Linked DNA regions of Homo sapiens. The gene in region 3 interacts genetically with the main gene of each other region. Each region holds a gene or a part of one and is shown on either strand. Other genes may lie near its edges.

What was found.
Region 1: changes in PPP2R2A (region 3) and COPA together harm fitness less than expected from each alone (positive genetic interaction), as found in Homo sapiens cells (one large-scale study listed by BioGRID).
Region 2: changes in PPP2R2A (region 3) and PSMD12 together harm fitness less than expected from each alone (positive genetic interaction), as found in Homo sapiens cells (one large-scale study listed by BioGRID).

What each region holds. Positions count from the first base shown.
Region 1 is NC_000001.11:160,305,251-160,308,905, forward strand, and holds part of COPA (coatomer subunit alpha), read right to left. Parts: intron 1,996-3,655; coding exon 1,913-1,995; intron 1,244-1,912; coding exon 1,104-1,243; intron 524-1,103; coding exon 438-523; intron 349-437; coding exon of another isoform or gene 322-348; coding exon 183-321; intron 1-182. UniProt on the Homo sapiens protein: The coatomer is a cytosolic protein complex that binds to dilysine motifs and reversibly associates with Golgi non-clathrin-coated vesicles, which further mediate biosynthetic protein transport from the ER, via the Golgi up to the trans Golgi network.
Region 2 is NC_000017.11:67,356,578-67,360,232, reverse strand, and holds part of PSMD12 (26S proteasome non-ATPase regulatory subunit 12), read left to right. Parts: intron 1-2,654; coding exon 2,655-2,714; intron 2,715-2,801; coding exon 2,802-2,930; intron 2,931-3,655. UniProt on the Homo sapiens protein: Component of the 26S proteasome, a multiprotein complex involved in the ATP-dependent degradation of ubiquitinated proteins.
Region 3 is NC_000008.11:26,364,508-26,368,162, reverse strand, and holds part of PPP2R2A (serine/threonine-protein phosphatase 2A 55 kDa regulatory subunit B alpha isoform), read right to left. Parts: intron 1,849-3,655; coding exon 1,757-1,848; intron 1-1,756. UniProt on the Homo sapiens protein: Substrate-recognition subunit of protein phosphatase 2A (PP2A) that plays a key role in cell cycle by controlling mitosis entry and exit. Involved in chromosome clustering during late mitosis by mediating dephosphorylation of MKI67.

The DNA.
Region 1 (3,655 bases), on a different chromosome or scaffold from region 3:
TTTTAGATTTCTCAATTTTAAAAAAGTTGAAAAAAGAATGTTCTGATGCCCCTTGCACATATATGCCAGGTAAGGCTTTTCCATGAAGAAAATTCATGGAGGACTTCAGTTACATCTCAAGACAAGACAGTGATTTCAGGAAGCTGTCTTCTCCCATTCTGTATCCCAGATAATTAACTTACCCAGTGGTGACAGCATATTTGATGTGGTTGCTTGTGGTATAGATAAATACCCCACTCTCATCCCAGGCCCCACTCTTGACACGAATGTTCTCATGAATGTTACATAAAGCATCCAGTTTGCGGTTACAGATCACAATGGCTGTAAGAGGCAAAGGGCATGAGTGTTCTGTTGGATAGGGTAAGTGCCGTAGACTGGCAGGGATCGGGGTGGAAGGGAATGGTCTCTAAATCAGGGTGGATATAATGAAGACTCACCGTGTTTGGCTAGTAGTGCTACATGTGACATGTCTGCTGACCAGATAACGTATTTCACTTTAGAAATCTTCACAGATGCCAGAGTCCTGAGATAGATAGAGATGTGCAAACATGAATGGATCTATTTCCCTTGTCTCAGGCTTTGATCTACATCAATTGCACCCTCTAATTAATGTAAACCCCAATTTCTTAATGTAATTCTAATTACATAAAATACTTAATGTAATTCCTACATAGTAGCTCAGTGACTTAAACATTTTGGCTCACATTGTGCACTTACCCCTTCCTCAACCCCCTCTCCCTCATTTCCTTGTATTATTAGGGAATCTGTGTATGTCTGTTTTCACCACTGGACTGCAAGCTCCCTTAAATGTAGGAACTATGTTATTAATCTCTGTCTCTCTCTCATTCTAAGCTCGGAGAACACGCTTTGTTCAGGTAAGTACTGTAAAAACAGATAAATAACCAAGAATCTCACTGTAATGCTAGTGTGGACGTGAAGAATGGAGAGTGATCACAGAAGGGAAAAGTTACTATAAAGAGTCTTGGAGCACAAGAAGTGGCCAAGCCACAAGACAAACTCACTTGGGGAAAAAAGGTTCCCACTAAAGATGTCCACTCTCCCCAACTACAGGGCTGTCTGCTTAGGGGCACCTGATATGTTACCGCTTCTGCTGTACGTCAAAGAGTGTGATAGAGTCCGCATCTCGAAGCAGGAGATTGCCTGTGCCAGCATAGAAGATCTCATCACAGTTGGGCACCTGTACCTTTTTGGTGATCTCATTCTTCAGATTCTTGATCAGAAGCTGCAATAAGTATTAAAGATGGGGTTAAGAGAAGAAATGTGTATAGATGATGATGACAACTGATGATGTTCCTCAGCAATTGTTCCTTAGCTTCAATTAACTAAGTATTTTTTGTCCTGTCCATGTCAATTACCACTGCAGACAGACCATGCCAACCAAGATCTTCTCTAAGGGCCTTAATACATTATTTTTTCTCCTCCAACTAAAACATCCTGAGAAGTCCCAACTAAAGTCTGAATTTCTCAATGAATGAGAGAGAGAAAACACTGTTTCTGGGGCTTAAATTTTGTTAAATATTTTCTTCAGAGTGCTTTATCTTGTGCTGGACCTATTACATTTCAAGTAACAATGGAGGCAGCAGAAGGAGGGAAATTTCCTCATCCAGCCCACTCACTTCAGATTTGATGCGTTTTGGGCTCCTGTAGTCAAGAGTGACTTTAGCTTGGTTCTTAAACCCAGAGCCACGGCGATCATCAACCCAATCAAATCAGTTTTAATGCCATTCCCCCAAGAGGGCTTAGTGTAGGGCTAGAGACAGAGGTACAGCCAATACATGAGAATCACGGCTGCCCGGGGGAGAACAGAAAAAACAATGGTCTTTATTTTGCAATACACAGGCCACTGCCACCACACTCCCCAAATTAGTTTCTGCTTTTAGTCTTAACTCACCGAATGCATCCGATCTAGGACAGCAAACCGATTTCGAGCGACCCAAACGGCTGTCAGGCCTGAGGATCGTTTCCCTTCAGGCGCTGAGAAGAACAAAACCAAAGGGTGGGAGCATGTGGTGAGTCACTGGCAGGTGACATAGTCGGGTGCCATGGAGCTGCCAGTCTTGCTGGATGCCATCTTGGCTTTGCCAGTTGAGCTGCTTCCTAACTAATTCAGCCATAACCTGGGGCTATTATTGAGTGACTTTTCCCCACCAGTCCCCTCCAAACACCAACCACCACCCCTGCCAAGGCTCTTTTCTCTAGGCCAAGTGGTTGCATTTCAGCCAACATCATGTACTGGCAGAAGGGCCGCCCATCTTGGGAGACAGCACACTCCATCAAGCTAACGAGCAGGGCCTCCCTGGCCAAGCTGCGGCAAAGCAAGCCTGTGTCATAGGACCCCCTCCACAGGATGCAGCTGCTCTCTGCTGCTTTTAACATGCAAATGCAGACTTCCTAGTAGGGCAGGGTGAGGCAGAGCACTCCCAACTAAATCTTGACAGGAGAGCTTGGTGCTGGGCGGTATTTAGAACCAAGTTGTTGCTCTGTAAATGTCAACTGACCATTCTTATCACCCTGAAGAGAGTTACAAAATGTTCCTCAGTTCAGTGGCTTATTAGAATTTTGAAATGGACACTCCATTCTCTGGGAAACTTGTAGAAGGATAAACAGAAGGGTGCATCAAAATACTCTTTTACCTATTAGACCAGCAGAAAACTGGAGAGAACATGCTGGCCAGTCTTGCCCCTGGCATCTGGAGTGGCAGGCAATTTATGAAACTAATTATTATCAAAACCAACACTCCCGTTTTCCAGGGGCCAGGAATCTGCATTATTCAAGCCCATCTCTGTTGCCCACCACTGGGCTGCTCCTTTATTATTATCTCCCTCAAAAAATGAAGTACAGAAAATAAAAGTGGTAATAAAACAAAACAAAATATTTTAAATTCTATTAATTGTAAACACAGATGGGGAAAAAAAAAAGCAAAGAGCTAGTTGGGAGGTACCAAACCATAAGATTTAGTCAGAAATGGCTTAACTGACTAATTTATAAGGGAGACTTTGACTTATGGATACCAAATACAAATATCTTTTCTTTCTCTCACTATGAACACATTTAAAAGAGAGGAGATCGATTAGCAACAATAATAACCCAGGGGCACCCACAAAAGAAACAGAGCTAGCAAATTATTTCTTAGGAATCTGTTGATGGGGTCTAAAATATCATTAAAATATGCCAGTAAGAGTGGGGATCTGCAGAATAAATCTCTGACCTGGTACTAGCCATAAACCCGCTGGAAGAAGTGCACCCAAAAGACCATAGGCAATAGTCAAATCCATTCTGAGAATGTTTTGTCAGCAAGTTCTAATCACAAGGACATCAACAAGGGATAGTGGTAATGGAAGAGGTAGGCAGGAGTCTCAGCTGGATCCTGGGATCCCAGGTGGGGTGTGGGGCTGTTAGCAGCCTCATCTTTTTGACATGCAAAAGGAAGCAAATCGGATCTGGATGTGGATAGGACAGTATAAATCCCTAGTCCCAGGATGAGGCATTATAAGATTGGAACCACATTTTTAAATAAATGAAACTACCAGGGTGAAAGTCATATCAACTGACAATAAACTAGGATAACATGCTGTGCTGAAAGAGAGAATGGAGAGTTTCTAATAACCAAATTATAAAATATATATATCTAGCT
Region 2 (3,655 bases), on a different chromosome or scaffold from region 3:
CTAATAGTAATTGCAAATGTGATGGGTGACTGTCATTAAATAGTATTTTGCATTTTAACTATTTTTGCCCTTCATTTTGTTGCCAGATAGTAACCATAGAGATGACTTTGATCAAAGCGAAAGGTGAGATTTAAACTAGTACAGTAGGGGAAGCGCTGCACTCTAGTGGAGAGAGCTTTGGAGCTTGAGGCAGGAGCCCCGGATCTAGTGCTGCTCATTTCCTTTTGTGGCTAAGCAAGTCATTTTAAGCTGTTTAGTCCTCAGTCTTTTTAATCTCTAAAATGAAATGATTGAATTAAATAATGCCTAGCCGTCTTTCTAGTTCTAAGATTCTTTCATCTTTTAGGATTTATTAGCCTTCAACTTTGGAGAATTTATAGATTTGTTCATTGTTTTTTTCCTCTGATGAACATTTAGCCAGTATTTATTATATATATAAATCTATAGAACTTTCAGAGAAAGGAGAACTAGGGCTCTCCAAACAGGAAACGTTGTTAAAATATGTTAAGAATCACATATTTCAGATTTAATTAAAATAAGTTCAGACGGGCCATGCAGTATATATGCTGTGCCGCATGGAAGATTCATGCATGTTTAAAAGCTATCTTGGAAAAATATGGCAGCAGTATTTTAAAAAGTCAAAACATTATTTATGCCCATAATTCAGAAGCTATTTAATAAGTTTCTTTCATCAGTAGAAAAGGATAGTACTCACGTATCATCCATGAATGTTATTAAGATAAAAAAAATTCATTTTTGGTTAGAAAAACAATTTTTAAACAATACTCTTCTCATTTCAATTTATTGTCAGAGATATTTACATGATAGTTATTAATATTAGCATGTTAAATAAATGCATTTTAAAAATTTTTTATCTAGAGACCAGGTCTCACTCTGTCACCCAGGCTGGAGTGCAGTGGTACATTCCTAGCTCACTGCAGCCTCAAACTCTTGCACTCAAGTGATTCTTCCGCCTCAGCCTCCTGGGTAGCTAGGACCACAGGCACAGGCTACCTTGCCCAGCTAATTTGTAAATTTTTTGTAGAGACAGGATCTGCCCCTATTTTCCATGCTGGTCTCGAATTCCTGGGCTCAAGTGTCCTCCCACCTCAGCCTCCCAAAGTGCTGGGATTACAGTGCGTGAGACACCATGCCTGGCCAATGAGTGCAGTTTTTGTGCTGTATGTTGGTTTTGGTTTTATCAAAATGTGTGGTTCCTAATAGGATAACTTGTTTTACTCCTGGTGTATTATCATTTATGTTTATATTATTTGAGTTTTATTGTTCCAATCTCTAAATATATAGCCTAGGGAGAATGTTTTATTTTTACATCTGAGTTAGAGATGTGGAGAGGTTAGTGTAAGTTGTCAGAAACTGTATTTCAGTTGAATCAGTATCTGCTCAAGAGCATGACTTTAAGGATAGCATGTGTGGGTGTTCTCAGATGCCTTCATTTCCGGTAAGCATGATTACTAATTTATTCTTAAAGTCATTGAAAAATTAAACCATAGTTTCCTGTCTTTTAGCTCCAAGCATTCTTTTTATTTCTCCTTGGAACTCTGTATTTTAAAATATCTGTTAGGGTGACGGTAACTTCATAAAGGAATCATTTATTTTCCTACTTTTTTTTTCTTTTTTTTCTTTTCTTTTTTTTTTTTTTTTTTTGAGACAGGTTCTCACTCTGTCGCCCATGCTAGAGTGCAGTGGTGCGATCTTGGCTTACTGCAGCCTTCACCTCCATGGCTCAAGCCAGCCTCCCACTTCAGCCTCCAGAGTAGCTGGGACTACAGGTATGCACCACAATGCCCAGCTAATTTTTGTATTTTTTTGTAGAGACAGGTTTCGCCATGTAGCCCAGCCTGGTCTCGAACTCCTGAGTTCAAGATATCTGCCCCCTTCGGTCTCCTAAAATGCTGTCATTACAGGCATGAGCCACTGCACCTGGCCTCTGTTTTTATTCTTTAAAGACACATGTGACTACCACTTAGAGTCTCTGATCAGAACAGGATCCACCAGATGCAGTGGCTCAGGCCTGTAATCCCAGCACTTTGGGAGGCCGAGGTGGGATGATCGCTTGAGGTCAGGAGTTCAAGACCAGCCTGGCCAACATGGTGAAAGCCCATCTCTACAAAAAACAACAAAAATTAGCCGGGTGTGGTGGGGCACTCCTGTAGTCCCACCTGCTCCGGAGGCTGAGGCATGAGAATCGCTAGAACCCGGGAGGTGGAGGTTGCAGTGAGCCGAGATGGTGCCACTGCACTTCAGCCTGGGTGAAAGAGTGAGACTCTGTCTCAAAAAAAAAAAGAACAAGATAAACAGGTGTTACCACACTGAGTTGATAAATTAGAATCCAAAACAAAGACTTGATGTTTTCTTAGGTGTTACATGATTGTTATATGTTCAGTTTCTCTTAGGCATTTAAAAATATTAAAAATAGCTTATGGGCTTCAAGTAGGGAACCACTGACTGATGGAACCCACTAGAGAAGGAAGCACTATCATGAAAAGGAGAGAAACAAAACTAGTTATGGGTAGTCCTTTTCCTCTAGAAGAGGCTGTTGATTTTTCCTTTTCTGTGTCAAAACCATTTCATTTTAGACTAGTTATTTGCATTTTGTGTGTTTTTTTATTGTTCATTTTCATCTTTTGTTTTAGGAAGGAAGACTTCAAGAAGTCATTGAAACCCTTCTCTCTCTGGAAAAGCAGACTCGTACTGTGAGTAGTTTACAGGGGAAAGCTCAGTTACCATTAATTTCATTGAACATTCTTCCATTAACTTTCAATATATTTTTACCCTTACAGGCTTCCGATATGGTATCGACATCCCGTATCTTAGTTGCAGTAGTGAAGATGTGCTATGAGGCTAAAGAATGGGATTTACTTAATGAAAATATTATGCTTTTGTCCAAAAGGCGGAGTCAGTTAAAACAAGTGAGTTCATGATCATGTCTGCTCCAAACACAAAAGCATTTGTATTTCAGAACTTTTCACAAGCTCTTCTATAAGTCTGTTTAAAATGTGTTAAGTCAACGTTGTAACATCCTAGAGGGTGTTTTAAAATTCAGTCTACATTCTCACAATGATATGACTGTTTTCTGTTTTTTCTTCTAGTCTTTATATGTTTGCATATTTTTAAAAATTGTGTTGTACTTAGAGTGTTCATACAGCTTTGTTCTATTTTGGTATTGCTACTTTTATTTTTTCCTTATTTATTTACTTATTTTGAGACAGGGTCTCACTCTGTCACCCAGGCTGGAGTGCAGTGGTATGATTACAACTGACTGCAGCCTCAACCTCCTGGGCTCAAGCAGTCTTCCCACCTCAGCCCCCAAGCAGCTGGGACTGTAAGCGCATGCCGCCACACCTGGCCAATTTTTTTATTTTTTGTAGAGATGAGGTCTCACTATATTACCCAGGCTGGTCTCAAACTCCTGGGCTCAAGTGATCCCTCTGCCTTGGCCTCTCAAAATGCTAGAATTACAGGCATGAGTCCCTGTGCCTAGCCCCACTTTTATTATTTTAAATGGTTTTGTTTTAATTTATCAAGCTGATATTCTCATTTTATTTAGTCATATCCCTTTTATTAAGCACATCTTTTTATGCTGTTTCAAAATTTTTTTTTAGTAGTAACTAAATATTTCATTTTCTTTTTTTTT
Region 3 (3,655 bases):
GCTTGTGTAATTTAGATTGACATCCCCATATCATCTGAGTTTGCGTGGTTTTAATGTATTAGGACACCTAGGCTGTGGCTACTTGAAACTTTAAAAAGGTATCATTAGGCCAGCATTTCTGTGGTATTCCTGCCAAAAATGTATAGCCTGAATCTAATCATGAGGAAACATTCTATAAAATAACTGGCCTGTGTTCTTCAAAATGCCAAGGTCATGAAAGACAAGGAGAGACTGAGGAACTGTTTCAGAATAAAGGAGACTAACAAGAGATGACAACTAAATGCTGGATACTGAACCAGACTGACTTTGTTCTGTGCCATAAAGGACATAGTTACAGTAACTGGTCAGTTTCAGTGGGTCTCCGGATTAGATGGCAGTACTGCATCGCTGTGAATGTTGCTTTGGATGCTGCACTGTCACTATGTTGGAAAGTGTTTTTGTCAGGAAATACTCATTCAAGAATTTAGGGTTATGGGCATCACATCTGGCGTAAATGGAATAAATTCCCATGTGGCACACAAGTTGCATGTGAGCACATGCGCACGTACCTATGTGGACAAATATAGCTATAAATAAACAGAGAATAGAACACGTGATACAGCAAACAGCGACAGGGGAACCTGGGTCAAGGCCAGCCAAGAGTTCTTTGTGTTATTCTAACAAATTTTCTCTAAGTTTGAAATAGTTAAAAAAAAATTTTTAATATTAAGGAAAACAAATCGTTTTTTTCTGATAATAGAACATAAAACTGCTAATTATCTGCTTAAATACAATGAAAAACTGGTTGTAGCTGTGCGCCACACCTTATTTCAGTATCTCTTTACTCTTCAAATTTGTTAATCTTTTTTTTCTTCTTCCCTTTCCTTCTTTCTTCTTGATGCCTCAGGTTTAGTAGTAGCACTCAAAGGCAATGTTTGCTATTAACAGAACTCTAGGTTTACTAGTCCTTATGTCAAAAATCAGATAATTTTAAAAGCCAGATGAAAGAAAACATTCTATAAGTTCTATTATCCTCTGTAACACACAACACCATGAAATCGGAATCATATTAAGCTCTGTGATAAAACTGTTGTTGAAGTATCTCTGATTACTTTAAATGTCAGTTTAATTCCAAAATTATGTTTTACTACTTTCTGTTCTACTGGAACATAGTGGCAAATAGACAACTAAAAGACTCAAAGTAAGACTTATTTTATCTTTAAATAATGGGTAACATTTTACTAAAAATGAATACGAAAAAGGAATTACACTACGGCAAAACTGGAAATTATAAAAAGCAAAGGATAACTACTACTAAAATTTTAACCATATATATTATGGTTAACATCATACATAACATACATATGAAAGACCACTTCTATGAGGTGTTAATGTAGCATCTGGAAAACCTGGTGTTTCTAACAATCCAAATGAGTTATCTGCCGCCTGAATGTTTCTGCAACAGTTTAATGGAAGAATAACAACCAAGCTGAAGCTTCACCGTTTTAATGGTTAGCATGTCAGAAATGTGATCTGGTTCATAAAAGAAAAAAAATTCTAGACATTTAAATAATTTAGATTACCTAGAATTTGTGTACTTTTATATTTACTAGTGAAATACAATGCTTTAATTTTTTATCTACCAGTACTGCTGTGCTATATCTAAAATTACTAAATTTATTTCAAGGAATCCCTAGAGACGAAGTTAGGACCTGGAATGAAATAGTTGTTTCTTTTCTTTAATAAAATTCATATTTGAGAGGTTTGACTTAATTACCTGTCAGATCCATTCCAACAACATTCAAATTTGTCAAATATGCAGTCATTTTCATACAGTGAACAGAGTTTACTTCTGAGGTATTCATGCACCTGGGGGAAAAATACAAATATACTGCACTGAAATTAGGAAAATGATTTAACAAGTCCATATCTTTAAAAAGAAAAAAAGGGCATATACAGACACATACACACACCTTTTAAACCTATTAATCTCAATCTTCTCAGTAACAATAAAGGCATTTTGTCCTTTTACAAAACACACAAGCCCTTCAGGGAGGTACATTTTCCTACTGGTATGACAAAGGAAAACTCCATTCTGGGCATGGCACACATAGCCTTTATAAGCCTGAATAAAACATTCAGGCCAAAAACACTTGAAAATGGCACAGTTAAGAGACTAATAAAAGAACATTATAGCAATATCTGAATATCACTATTCTTGGCTTTCAGTCCATTAACTACTGATAACAACACTGAAACTGTGCCTATTTCTTTCTTAAATACCATTTTCTGGGCATAAATTTAACTGAAGCCTATATTTTCCATTATAAATGCACATGTATGCATAGCGTAACCATGCCTTGGTTTGGTGATAAATTATATGGTTATTCTGGGCATATATTATTAAAAATTTGATAGTATCATATTATACAATGTCAAAAGCTAACAAAGCTGTGCCTGTTTTTTGAATTATATAATTCTGTATTTACTAATATGTCAAAAAAGGATAAACTAGAAATCTCATATTTAAAAAGTCTGAGAAATATGACATATTTCAACATTAATATTAATTACAAACAAAAGTTCCAAAGTATTTGTTGTAACTCAAAGGAAAAAAGGAAGTGTCTATATTTCACCATCTCTTTTTAAGGAGCTACTTAAGGAGAAATGACAGAAATGAGAAGGTACCTTCTAAATGCTTAGAATTCTCTATTCTATATGAAACAATCTAAACTTATTTTCAGTGTCTATTTTAACTTTAAATATAGTGGAATGATTCAGGCCATGTCTCTGTGACATTAAGTGAAAATCTGTAATACAGAGGAATAGCAACTCATGTGGGGTTAGGATCAAAAGTGAGCATGTAACACAAAAAAATCAGTAAGAAAAAAATACCCTTCAATCACACAAAACTTGGCAAGATGCTGGTACAAATTCAATAAAAATAGTTTTATCTATATATGATACATTTGCCTATAATGTGACTACTTTTAATCACTACTCCAACTGTTTATAAGTAGAAAAGTAGCAAATCAGGTAAAATTAGGTAGATTATCATAATTTAGCAACATTTTAGAATGCACATTATAGAGTTTCTCACTATACATCAGTATGAAGCTAAGCTTCAAATCAATTCTTCTCAATGGGAATGAAATGATGGTGAGGGTAACTAGGAGATATATCAATCTTGGCAGTTACACAAATAGAAGTCTTTTTTCAGTATACACGAGGGATGGGTTCCAAGAACCCCAGGTATACCCAAATCTGCAGTTAGCCCTGCGGAACCCACACGTGAAGTTTTGGCCCTCCATATATTTGAGGGGTTTGCATCCCTCAAATATTGTATTTTCAAATGTGCATTGGTTGAACAAAACAAAACAAAAAATCTGTGTATGAGTGAACCCATGCAGTTCAAATCCATGTTGCTCAATAGTGAACTATACTTTGAAAAGCAAAGCAGTATTTTGTCTTTTGTTTCAGTGCAGTATTTATTTTGAAATTTCACGTATCAAAAACAATCTTCGTTTATGTTTGTCAGAGGATTTAAAGTTTGAGAAACATACTTCCCAGTCTATTGAGAATATATAACATAAAGAAAGTATATGTATAAATTAGAGTTAAGTGATTTCAACACTGCAGTCTAGGGCCTAGCACAGGTTTGTGCTGTCCCTCACCC